Regions from separate parts of the Homo sapiens genome. Here region 2 is linked to region 1. The links come from fine-mapping of genetic effects on gene expression. A gene starts in region 1. The other region holds a variant in brackets. All regions are shown on one strand. Distances are from middle to middle. Region 1 holds the start of PITPNC1 (phosphatidylinositol transfer protein cytoplasmic 1). Region 2 overlaps PITPNC1 (phosphatidylinositol transfer protein cytoplasmic 1).

Region 1 (5,369 bases):
ATTTGGCTGGAGTTGGGCTGGGAAGGGTAATGGACTAATGTGGGAAAGGTAGATCCAGAGCCTTGAACCTCCTACCAAAGCATTTTGACTTGCTCAGTAGGCCATAGAGAAGCCCTAAAAGGTTTTTATATATTTTTAAATTTTAGAGACAGGGTTTCAGCATGTTTCCCAGGCTGGTCTTGAACTCCTGGGCTCATGCGATCGGCCCACCTCCCCTCCCAAAGTGCTGGGATTACAGGGGTGAGCCACCGAGCCCAGCCAGGAATCACTAAAAGGTTTGAAGGTGGCAGGATGAGAGCTGTACTTGCACAAGATTAATATGACCAGGTTTGCGGATGCAATGAATGAAAAGAAAATGAGAATCCAATGGAGAAGTCACCTTACAACAGGAGGGGTGGGCTGGGCGCGGTGGCTCACACCTGTAATCCCAGCACTTTGGGAGGCCGAGGCCATCACCTGAGCTCAGGAGTTTGAGACCAGCCTGACCAACATGGTGAAACTCCATCTCTACTAAAAATACAAAATTAGCCAGGCGTGGTGGCCGGTGCCTGTAATCCCAGCTACTCCAGAGGCTGAGGCAGAAGACTTGCTTGAACCCGGGAGGTGGAGGTTGCAGTGAGCCGAGATCATGCCATTGCACTCCAGCCTGGGCAACAAGAGCGAAACTCCATCACAAACCAATAACAGCAACAAGACGGATGATGGAGGAAGCATATATGTGACAATTTACAGTTCGGGAAATTCAGAGAAGTAGCTCCTCAACAGTGTCACCCGTCAGTAGAATACTTCCTTCCAGAATCAGTGTCAGGAAATGTCCAGGAAGCCAGGAACTGAGCCTACACATCCCGATGTCCCAAGTGCATGCGCATGTGTGGCTAGCCAATCCCTTGCCTTCCTGCCTCTGGGAAGATTATTAGGTCTTCCATTTGTTTTCAAGTAAGAAGCAAAAAAAAAAAAAAAAAAAGGAAAAACAGCTTGAGTTTCTTTCCATATCACAGCCTTCCAATGTGTTATTATTCAACACTGCAGTGTCAGATTTAGATTTTCCACCTCGAGGAATTTGGTTTAGCTTTAATTAGTTGCTGTGAATATTTCTGAGCCAACTCTGGAAAGCATTTATCTGGAAAATAGTTTCCACTAAAATATAAGCTGGATATAGGGTATCATTTTCCTAGGAGGGTTTGTATCAGTTAACAGTTATAAATTCTCTCCAGCCCTCTGGATGACTTTTGCCACAAGCCCATCATCGTCATATTGGTTAATTACTTATTAATTAAACACAATTCAAAATACTGTATTGAGGCATCTGCATCGCCATCTAAGCTCTAGCTTCAGGACTTCAGAGCGTGAAGATTTTTCGGAGAAAAGATAACGCTTACAGGTTATTCTCATACAGGCAACTGATGCATTTTTCATCCGGCAACTTTTCATAAAAACAAGCTGAAAAATACCAGACAAATGAAAAACAGACTTCAGCAGTTCCATGCTGCTTCCTGAGTAACTGAAGAATGTGCTTCTTGTGGTTAAAATGAGAGATCTGTTTAATATGGATCAAATAGCAACACTCCAGGCATTTTCATTGACATTTCACTGTGACTTTTTGAACTTAGGAGTGCGGATACGAAAACCTACTCTTTCTTTCTGCTGCGCGGAGCCTGCACAATCTGCAGAAAGATTGCAGAGCCGGGCCAGGCGAGGTAACAGGCTACGTGGGGTTCATGTTCTCTCTGGTTGTTCCCTCCCCGTTTGTACTTCATTTCCATTCACACGGCTGCACTTCCCAGTTTTCCAGGATCTCTCCTCTGAAACCAGGCAAGGGTTTGTTCCCAAATCCCACCCATTGCCTCTCCAGCCCCAGACTTGCTTACTGGACCACACATAGGTGGTGGGCATTGGTGACTTGTCCCTAGGGTCAGGGGACCAGAAACTTCCCAGAGGGGCTGGATGGAGCACGGCAGCACTCAGGGCACAATGGAGAGCGGATTCAAAGGGCAAAGGAGCCGAGGAAAGCCCCTCTGCCCGAGCCTCCCCAGCGCCGGCCGGGCTCCGCTCCGGAGCAGCCCCGCCGTCTGGCAGAGACATGCTGTTTTGTTTAAATCCTCCACATTCTTTGCCATTTCCCCATTGGCCGGATGGGGCTACCCTCCCCGCCGCGGCCGCTGCTGATGTCAGCCTCGCTCGCGCTCGCTCCTCCCGCACCCACCTCCCGGCCCCAGGCACACTGCATCGGCGCGGACGCTCCGGCCCCGGCGAGGTGGCTGCAAACTCGCGGGCACGCACGGCGCCCGGGGAGCCGAGGGACTCGGGGGAGGGGACGCGCGCGGAAGGCGCCAGCTTCCTCCCGCCCGCCCCTGGCAGCCGCGAGCCGAGGTTGGAGGCGCCCGGGGCCCCAGCCGGGCAGAGCCGAGCGGCGGCGGCGGCGGCGGCTTCCCTTTTCTCCCCGAGCCGAGCCCCGGAGCGGCGCGGGGACCGGCCCTAAAAAGAGCAGGAAATCTTGTTTACCGCCCGCGGAGAGAAGCCGATCGAGCCTTTGTCTGGAAAGTCAGCATCTCCGGCTCCGGCTGCAATGTGTTCCTGGTGACATTAGCATCGGGCAGACCCGCCGGAGGAGGGGGGTCGCCAGGTTCCCGTCTGCTTTCGGAGGCGGATCGAGCGGGTGACTTTTGTGCATTCGTTTTAATTTTTGGAAATCTCTCTTTTTTCCTCCCTCGCTCGCTGCCGGGCATGTCCTGATCTGGCGGCCGCTCCTACCACCCTGGGCAGCCGAGCAGAGTCGTCCCCAGCGGGTCTCCCTCCCTGCCTCCCTGACTTTGCAACACCGCGTTCCGGGAGGACCGGCCTCGGCGAGGGAGGAGGCGGGGGAGCTGCGAACACCCAGACCCAAACCCTGACATGCTCTGGGGCGGAGAGGAGGAAGCCAGGAGCTGAGCGCGCCGCGGGGGCTGCTTCGCCCTCCGGCTCCGAGCGCCGGGCTCCGGGCGCCCTGCCCTGCGCCTGGGCAGCAGCCTTGCTGGTCTTGGGGGCGCCCCCCGCTTCCCGCCCCGGGGGTCCGCGGCCGGCAGGACCATGCTGCTGAAAGAGTACCGGATCTGCATGCCGCTCACCGTAGACGAGGTAAGCGCCGCGCCCGGCCCGGCCTCGCCCGCTCCGGGACCCCCGCCGCTACCGCCGCCTCCTGGCCGGCGAGCCCCGGGCGAGCGGCAGGAAACCCAGGTGGACGTTACCCCGCAAACCCGAAGCCTGGAGGAGAGGAGGGAGGGGATTTGCGGCTTCCACTTGTCACCCCAGCGGGGGAGGGCGGCGCTGGGTGGGGCGGCGGACTCCGGGTGGGCTTTTCGGGGGCGCCCAGAATCCAGACTGTTGGGGATCACTATGAGCCAAAGGGAGTGGGTGCGCCCCCTCCCTCCAAATAAGAAAATGAATAAACCAAACCCAAGAGCCCCCGGCGCGCGCTGTAGCTGGGGTTTGGGGGGCATCCCGTCCTGGCCGTGGGCCCAGCCTCCCCTCCCCGCCCTCTGCGGTCAGGTAGGGGTGCGAGGAGGAGCCCTGCGCCCTCGGGATCTGCACGCCCCGAGCCCCGCGGGAGGAACCTCTGAGCCCTTAGGGGAGGTCCCTGCGGGGCCCGACTTCTCGCCGTCGCCGCGGGCTTGGGCGCAGCTCCCGGCACGTCCGCCCTTCGAGGCTCGGGACCCGGCTGTGTCCTTTCGCAAACCGCCTGGCTCGGAAACTTTCTGCGTCTCTTGTTTCTTCCGCCGCGGGGAGCGGCGCGCGAGCCGGGAGCGGCGGGGGCTGCGACGCGGCCACAGGAGGGCGCTCCAGCACGTGGTGCCGGGGCCGCGGCTGCCGGCTGGGGGCGCCGGGCGCGGGGCGGGGGCTCGTCCTCCAAGCGCGGCTCTGCTGTCCTTCTCCCGATCCTGCGAAGCCGCGAGCTCCAGTATTCAGGAAGTGGTGACTCAGATAGGATTATTCCGGCCCCGGCTTCCCTTTCTTCCCCTTCTTCCTCCCCACCTTTGTGGTGATTCCACGACTGCTGAGCGTCTCTGTCCAGGGACAGCGAGGGAGCCCAAAGCCAAGCAAGGCAACGTGAAACTCACTAGTGTGGTTTGGTGTGGCAACACACATGAAATCAGCCACCCAGACCGTCTTTATATTTAAATCTGGTGCCTCGAAACTATCAGATATGTTTTTGAGCCACTACTTGGTGAGAGGGGCGATGTGCTTTGGGAGAGAAAAAGATGCATAACTGAGAACATGGCTGAGCTCACAGGGGCTGTCCGTATTTGCCATCTGGACCAAGGGTTAAGGTAAGACCCAAGTACAATCCAAGACAAGATCAAAGTAGCTGCAAGTTTACAAAACGCATCACGGGGACACAGGCTGCCAAGGAGGGAGAGATCAGCTTCCACCAGAATGAACAACCGAGTTTTGGAGTTCGTTGGCATTTGAGGAGGTAGCATTTAAGCAGGGTCTGGAAGGGTGGATGCCAGGTGGGTAGACAGAGATTCGAGTTGCATATGACCTTGTAAGTGGAGAAGCAGGACATAGCTTTGTGGAGAAAGAGAAGGGCAAATGAATGGGACTGGTTAATAGGAGTCTTTCCAGAAAAGGTGGAGATTGTCCCACCTTGTGGGCAGTTGAGCTAGAGTAATTCAGCTGGGAGGCATGGATCCCTCTACTCCATATCCTAATGACCTTGTTTTTTGATATGAGTTTGGATTCTAGGAGCAATGTTGGGACTGCATGAAATACACAGAAAATTGCAGGTGATAATCAAGAAAAGAACCAGTTCTAGAATCTTCTCTACTAACTACAAAATCTCTTTATCCTAGTTGGTTCCCTTTTCAGGCTTTCTGAAACACTCAGGCAGATGCTTTTCCCACTTTTGTTTTTGTACCGAAATACCCACAGGTATACCGTGGGGTAATTACATTTGAATGATATAGGTGGAGGCCCTTCCTTCCTTCCTTCCTTTTTTTTGTCTTTTCTTTTCTTTTTTTTTTTTTTGAGATGGAGCCTTGTTATGTTGCCCAGGGTGGGGCGCAATGGCGAGATCTCGGCTCACTGCAACCTCCGCCACCTGGATTCAAGCAATTCTCCTGCCTCAGCCTCCTGAGTAGCTGAGATTACAGGTGCCTGCCACCACGTCTGGCTAATTTTTGTATTTTTAGTAGAGACGGGGTTTCACCATGTTGGCCAGGCTGGTCTTGAATGCCTGACCTCAGGCAATCCGCCTGCCTCAGCCTCCCAAAGTGCTGGGATTACAGGCATGAGCCACTGCGCCCAGCCAGCCCTTCCTTTCTTAATTGGCCAACAAAATCAGACTCATCAGACTCCACCTGTAATATAATTATAAATTCTTTAATGTATAA
Region 2 (5,369 bases), 44 kb after region 1:
ACTGGTTACTTTTATGAAAGCTCCCCAGGTAAGGGGCAGAGGACAGCAACCTGTTGGTCCAGATTAACATTCAGTGGTATTAAGCAGAGACTGTGGCTTTCAACTATAAGTAAAAGCATGCTTGGGGGAGAAGGAGGAAGGGAGAAAAAAAAAAATGAGAAAGCAGAAAGATGCAACAGGGGTTGGCAAAGAGTCAGGAGCAGGGAGTGAGGGGGAAAGTAGGTACATGTGGTGGAGAAATGGAAGCTCTCCCAATGGTTCCATCAGTTCCACCACACTGGCACAGATTCTAGAAGTTTCCTATTTCTGGAGTAGGACGCAGACATGATGCATTTCCTACTAAGACAGATTTCTATCCAGGAAACATCATTTCAAGTTGCAGTGCCAGGCTCGAGGATCCTTCTCCGTCATTGCTTCAAGTGTGGTGGGTTCAGTACCTCCTTTAATGTAAGAGCTGGCCCGTCTTCCCTACCTACTTGGGACACTTTCTAGTTTTGACCTTAAGTAGGGTATCAGGAAAATTCCGAGAAAGGGAAGACACTCTTTTTCCTGAATTACAGAATAGACCAACTCATTAGAAAAAATAAATTAAAGAGGCCAGGCGCAGTGGCTCAAGCGTATGATCCCAGCACTTTGGGAGGCCGACGCAGGCGGATAACTTGAGGTCAGGAGTTCGAGACCAGCTTGGCCAACATGGCGAAACCCCGTCTCTACTAAAAATACAAAAATTAGTCGGGTATGGTGGCAAGCACCTGTAATCCTAGCTACTCGGGAGGCTGAGGCAGAAGAATTGCTTAAACCCGGGAGGTGGAAGTTGCAGTGAGCCGAGACTGTGCCGCTGCACTCCAGCCTGAGTGAGGCTGGAGACCCAGAGCAAGACCCTGTCTCAAAAAAAAAAAGAGAGAGAGAGAGAAAACCAGAACCCCTTTGTTTCAAAACCATCCACATCTGTCTATCCATCCGTAAAGCACAAAGTTATCAGAGACAAATCATGGTCTCATTTTGCTTCATGCATTTTGGACCTGACATGAGTCCGTCTTTGATCCCTGAGGGGTGGTAGAAACAAGCAATGCTTTTCAGAGTGAAGCTAAAAAAGGCACTCTGTGGAAGAGAATATATTTTATAGATCAGTGATTAGTGAGTCTTTTCATGACAAGTTTTGTATTAATTATGATTTGAAAACCTCCAGTGCAGGGTTCTCAGGAATTACTAAGTGCCCCTGGGTACAGCAAGAAGCACTGGAATAAAGAATCTCAATGTGTGACCAAATTTCTAAATTCTTGGGGGTGTACAGAAATTAGCCACTTCTATTTTCTCTCTCTCTTTCTCTCTCTCCTTCCTTCCTTCCTCCCTCCCCTCCCTCCCTCCCTCCCTTCCTTCCTTCCTTCCTCTTCTCTTCTCTTTTCTTTTCTTTCTTTTTTTCTTTCTTGAGTCTTTCTCTGTTGCCAGGCTGGAGCTCGGTGGCGCTATCTCGGCTCACTGCAACCTCCACCTCCTTGGGTCAAGCGAGCCTCTCACTCACCCTCCTAAGCAGCTGGGATTACAGTCATCCACCACCACGCCTGGCTGATTTTTATATTTTTAGTAGAGACGGGGTTTTGCTATGTTGGCCAGGCTGGTCTTGAACTCCTGGCCTCAAGTAAACTGCCCGCCTCAGCCTCCCAAAGTGCTGGGATTACAGGCGTGAGCCACTGCGCCCGGCCTCACTTCTGTTTTCTACTTGTGTTTTTATTTCCATTGCATTTCCTGACTTGTGTATATTTTCTCGTTGTAGAAGCACTTAGTGTTTTGGCACTCAGACTTACTTTCCAGTGTTTCTTCTGATCAATCAATAGCCCTTTACTCATACTAACTATATGTGATGGAAGCAAAGTCAGGAATGTCTAATGTGGGGGCAGAATTCACTATGAAGCTACTTAGAATTTCACCAGCCATGAATGATACATTATCCATCATGTTAGCTAGAATATACTGGGCTCCAGTCTCTTTTGGGGGATCTTTAGGGTCCTTCTGGGTGCAGAAGGGAAGATGACATTTCAGGAGATCTCTGCGCATTCCACCCTGGCTTCCTTCCTTCCAGGTAGGCTGAGAGAAAGCTTTCTTCTTGATGGTGCTAGTGAGAACTTGGCAGGTGGAGCAGGAACTGTTAGTTTTTCACTCCCTGTTGGAGTCATTCACACATACAGCTCATATAGAAGACGGATGTCTTTTGTCTTGGTGCCAAAGACTTGAAAACAGAGAACGGTAACTTTTATTTATTTATTTATTTTTGAGATGGTGTTTCGCTCTTGTCACCCAGGCTGGAGTGCAATGGTGTGATCTCAGCTCACTGCAACCTCTGCCTCCTGGGTTCAAGCGATTCTCCTGCCTCAGCCTCCTGAGTAGCTGGGATTACAGGCACTCATCACCACGCCTGGCTAATTTGTGTATTTTTACTAGAGATGGGGTTTTACCATGTTGCCCAGGCTGGTCTTGAACTCCTGACCTCAGGTGATCCACCTGCCTCGGCCTCCCAAAGTGCTGGGATTGCAGGTGTGAGCCACTGTACCAGGCTAGAATGGTAACTTTTGAAACCCATTTTTGTTATTCTAAAGTCTTCACGGTGTGGTGTTGGGAAGGCTGGGTTGCTGTGTCAGATGGGTACCCTCACCCCAGTTATGGCTGTTCTCACATCCAATTCCAGGAAGCCTCATTCTTGTGTGGTCATAGAAAAGCAACCTTAATTTTCCTGTGTCTTAGTTTCCTTACCTCCTAGAAATGTGGCAAAGATGCAGAATCTGTTTATTTAGTAAATATTTATCAAGTTCTGGGAATACAGCGGCGAATAAGCCACCAAATCCTTCCTTGATGGGACTCACCCTCTAACACAGCCAAGGCAATGAGAGACCTTCCAGGAATAACATTGAGAGGCAAATTATGCATGTAGGTGACACATGAGGCCAACAGGAAATGACCTCGAATTGAAGTTGAAATTTACAGTGCGAGATGAGCCAAGAATCTGTGAACCCTTAGAACTCAGGCAAGGTGAGCTGGTGTGACTTGCAGGAAGTATGACTCAATTGTGACTGTACCCAAGAAGGCTTAAACCACATCATCTGAAAGAAGGATGTGCCAACATACGCTTCCAATGACTAAAAGGAGGGGCAGAGGGAAAAACAAAACAGCATGTTCCCAGGCCCATCCTAGGAGGAAGGAAGGCTATTAATACATTCCTTTGACATT[G/A]TCTACTTACCATTGCATAGAGTTGGAGGTGAGTGGCATATGGAGAGACAGAGATTTGGAGACAGACTGAGTTTGAATCCCAATTTTGTCTTATTAGGCCGTGGACAAGTCATTTCAACTCTCTAAGCTTCAATTTCCTCATTATTTATTTTTTAAAATAGAGATGAGGTCTTGCTATGTTGCCTAGGCTGGTCTTGAGCTCCTGGGCTCAAGCCATCCTCTTGCCTTGGCCTCCTGAGTACATACAGGTGTGAGCCACCACACCCACCTGCCCAGCCCTAGCTTGCTCACTGTCTTTCTTTTTTTCTTTTTTTTGAGACAGAGTCTTGCTCTGTCACCCAGGCTGGAGCACGGTGGTGTGATCTCGGCTCACTGCAACCTCTACCTCCCAGGTTCAAGAGATTCTCCTGCCTCAGCCTCCTGCGTAGCTGGGATTAGACTACTACACTCGGCTAATTTTTGTATTTTTAGTAGGGATGGGTTTCACCATGTTGGCCAGGCTGGTCTCGAACTCCTGACCTCACGTGATCTGCCCACCTCAGCCTCCCAAAGTGCTGGGAATAAAAGTCGTGAGCTACCACGCCGGTCTAGCTTACTCAAACAATGTCTAGTTTGCAGGGTAGTGTATGTACGTGCCTCAGTGTCTTTGGTGTGATATACACTTAGTAAATGTTAGTTCAGCTCTAACAGACTCATCTGAGATTTTGATTCTGTAACTCCCAAGAGTTCAGTATGCTAGCATTTTTTTTTTTTTAACATGAGGAAGAGTTGGGTAAGGAAGAGCTGTGTTTTAATTGCATTACGGCTCAACTGCTAACTGTTTTGATATGTTGAACAAAGTCCATTGATTCTTCATGGAGGAGTGCTTGCTGGGGAGTGTGAGTCAGCACGTCTGCGTTATTAACTTGTTCGGAAGCTTTTTGTGGCAGATTGATTTTAAAAGCCCCCAAGGAAACAGAGGATTTTATTTAATAGAAATATTGTCAGAATGACATTGAGATTTGGGTTTAGCTTTCAAATCACTGGATACAAGTTGAATCAGGTCTTTTCTCTGACAGATATTGGAAACATGGTGTGTTGGAGAAATACTCTCCATTGCCTGGCAGGGCCCTTACCTTGGGAGAGGGGGATGATATTTGCCTGGAGCACCCCGGTGACCCCACCTAGCAGGCCTGACTTTCTAAAGGCAAGGATGTGGGCTTGGTACAGAGAGGTGGCGAAACCTGAATATTAGTATTTTCAAATCTGATTACTAGTATTTTCAACCGACCTGACTAGGCGCAAATCCATGCTCATTTAAATGAAAGTCTACCTGAAATCATGCCTCACTGCAACCATGCACTTCTGGGCTTAAGCGATCCTCCTGCCTCAGCCTCCCTGAAGGTCCACCTGCATTTGAATAAGGATGGATGTGCGCCCAGGTATGTCTTTGTGGGTTTCCATCCTATAGTTCTGGAGCAAAGGACAAATGGAAGAAAGTTGCTAAAGAAAAGAAGAGCGTTTCTGTGGCTCCTTCAAGAGCAGTTACAGATTTCTGTCCTGAAGCCAGGAGGGAATATGTGGCCCAGGTCCCACAGTGGAGAGTTGCAATGCTCCCTCTTGGGCATCTCTGTCCTCATTTGGATTCAGGGCTGAAACTTCGGGATCAGTTTCACAGAAGAGGTTTCAAGTAGATTTCTTGCAGTCCTGAAAGTCACACTTCTCTGAAATTGGTTTAACACCAATCCAAAACCTATTGGTGTTCCTGTTACATTTTACAACTCTTCATATGCCACTTAAGAAATGACCTCTCTAGAATTGTGACTCCAGCCTAGGCAACAGTGGGAGACTGTCTCAAAAAAAAAAAAAAAAAAAAAATAGAGTTGAGGATGAGGAGCTCAAGAATAAAAGTGAGATGGGATGGACAGAGAAAAAGCAGGAAAACTAGCGAATGGTATGGTAGAAGCCAATAGAGAAAGGACTTTCAAGGTGGAGGGAGAGAATTTAAGAGTTGGGACTTCTCTTCCAGCAAGAAGAGGAAGAATGGCATAAGAGGGACTGTGATGTAGGCACTATGTCACCATCGTATTTAATCCAAACTATAACTATGCAAGATTACCACTTGACCTTCAAGAAAACTGGGCTGGCTGGGCGCAGTGGCTCACTCC

The links. PIP is the estimated chance that this variant, and not a neighbour inherited with it, causes the effect.
Region 2: its variant is fine-mapped to the expression of PITPNC1 in fibroblasts (GTEx, PIP 0.93).

The regions. Positions count from the first base shown.
Region 1 is chr17:67,375,089-67,380,457 of GRCh38, forward strand. PITPNC1 (phosphatidylinositol transfer protein cytoplasmic 1) reads left to right here and starts at 2,193. Exons shown (of 9, transcript NM_012417.4): 1 at 2,193-3,114. The coding sequence starts at 3,067. RefSeq lists an enhancer at 1,999-2,692 and silencers at 2,078-2,197, 2,248-2,497, 2,848-3,267, 3,278-3,577, 3,688-4,047.
Region 2 is chr17:67,419,029-67,424,397 of GRCh38, forward strand. All of the region lies in intron 1 of PITPNC1 (phosphatidylinositol transfer protein cytoplasmic 1), which reads left to right. Among named protein-coding and RNA genes, the nearest start is that of PITPNC1, 44 kb to the left of the region's middle. RefSeq lists an enhancer at 2,386-3,585. The variant G/A (reference allele first, on the strand shown) is at 3,223.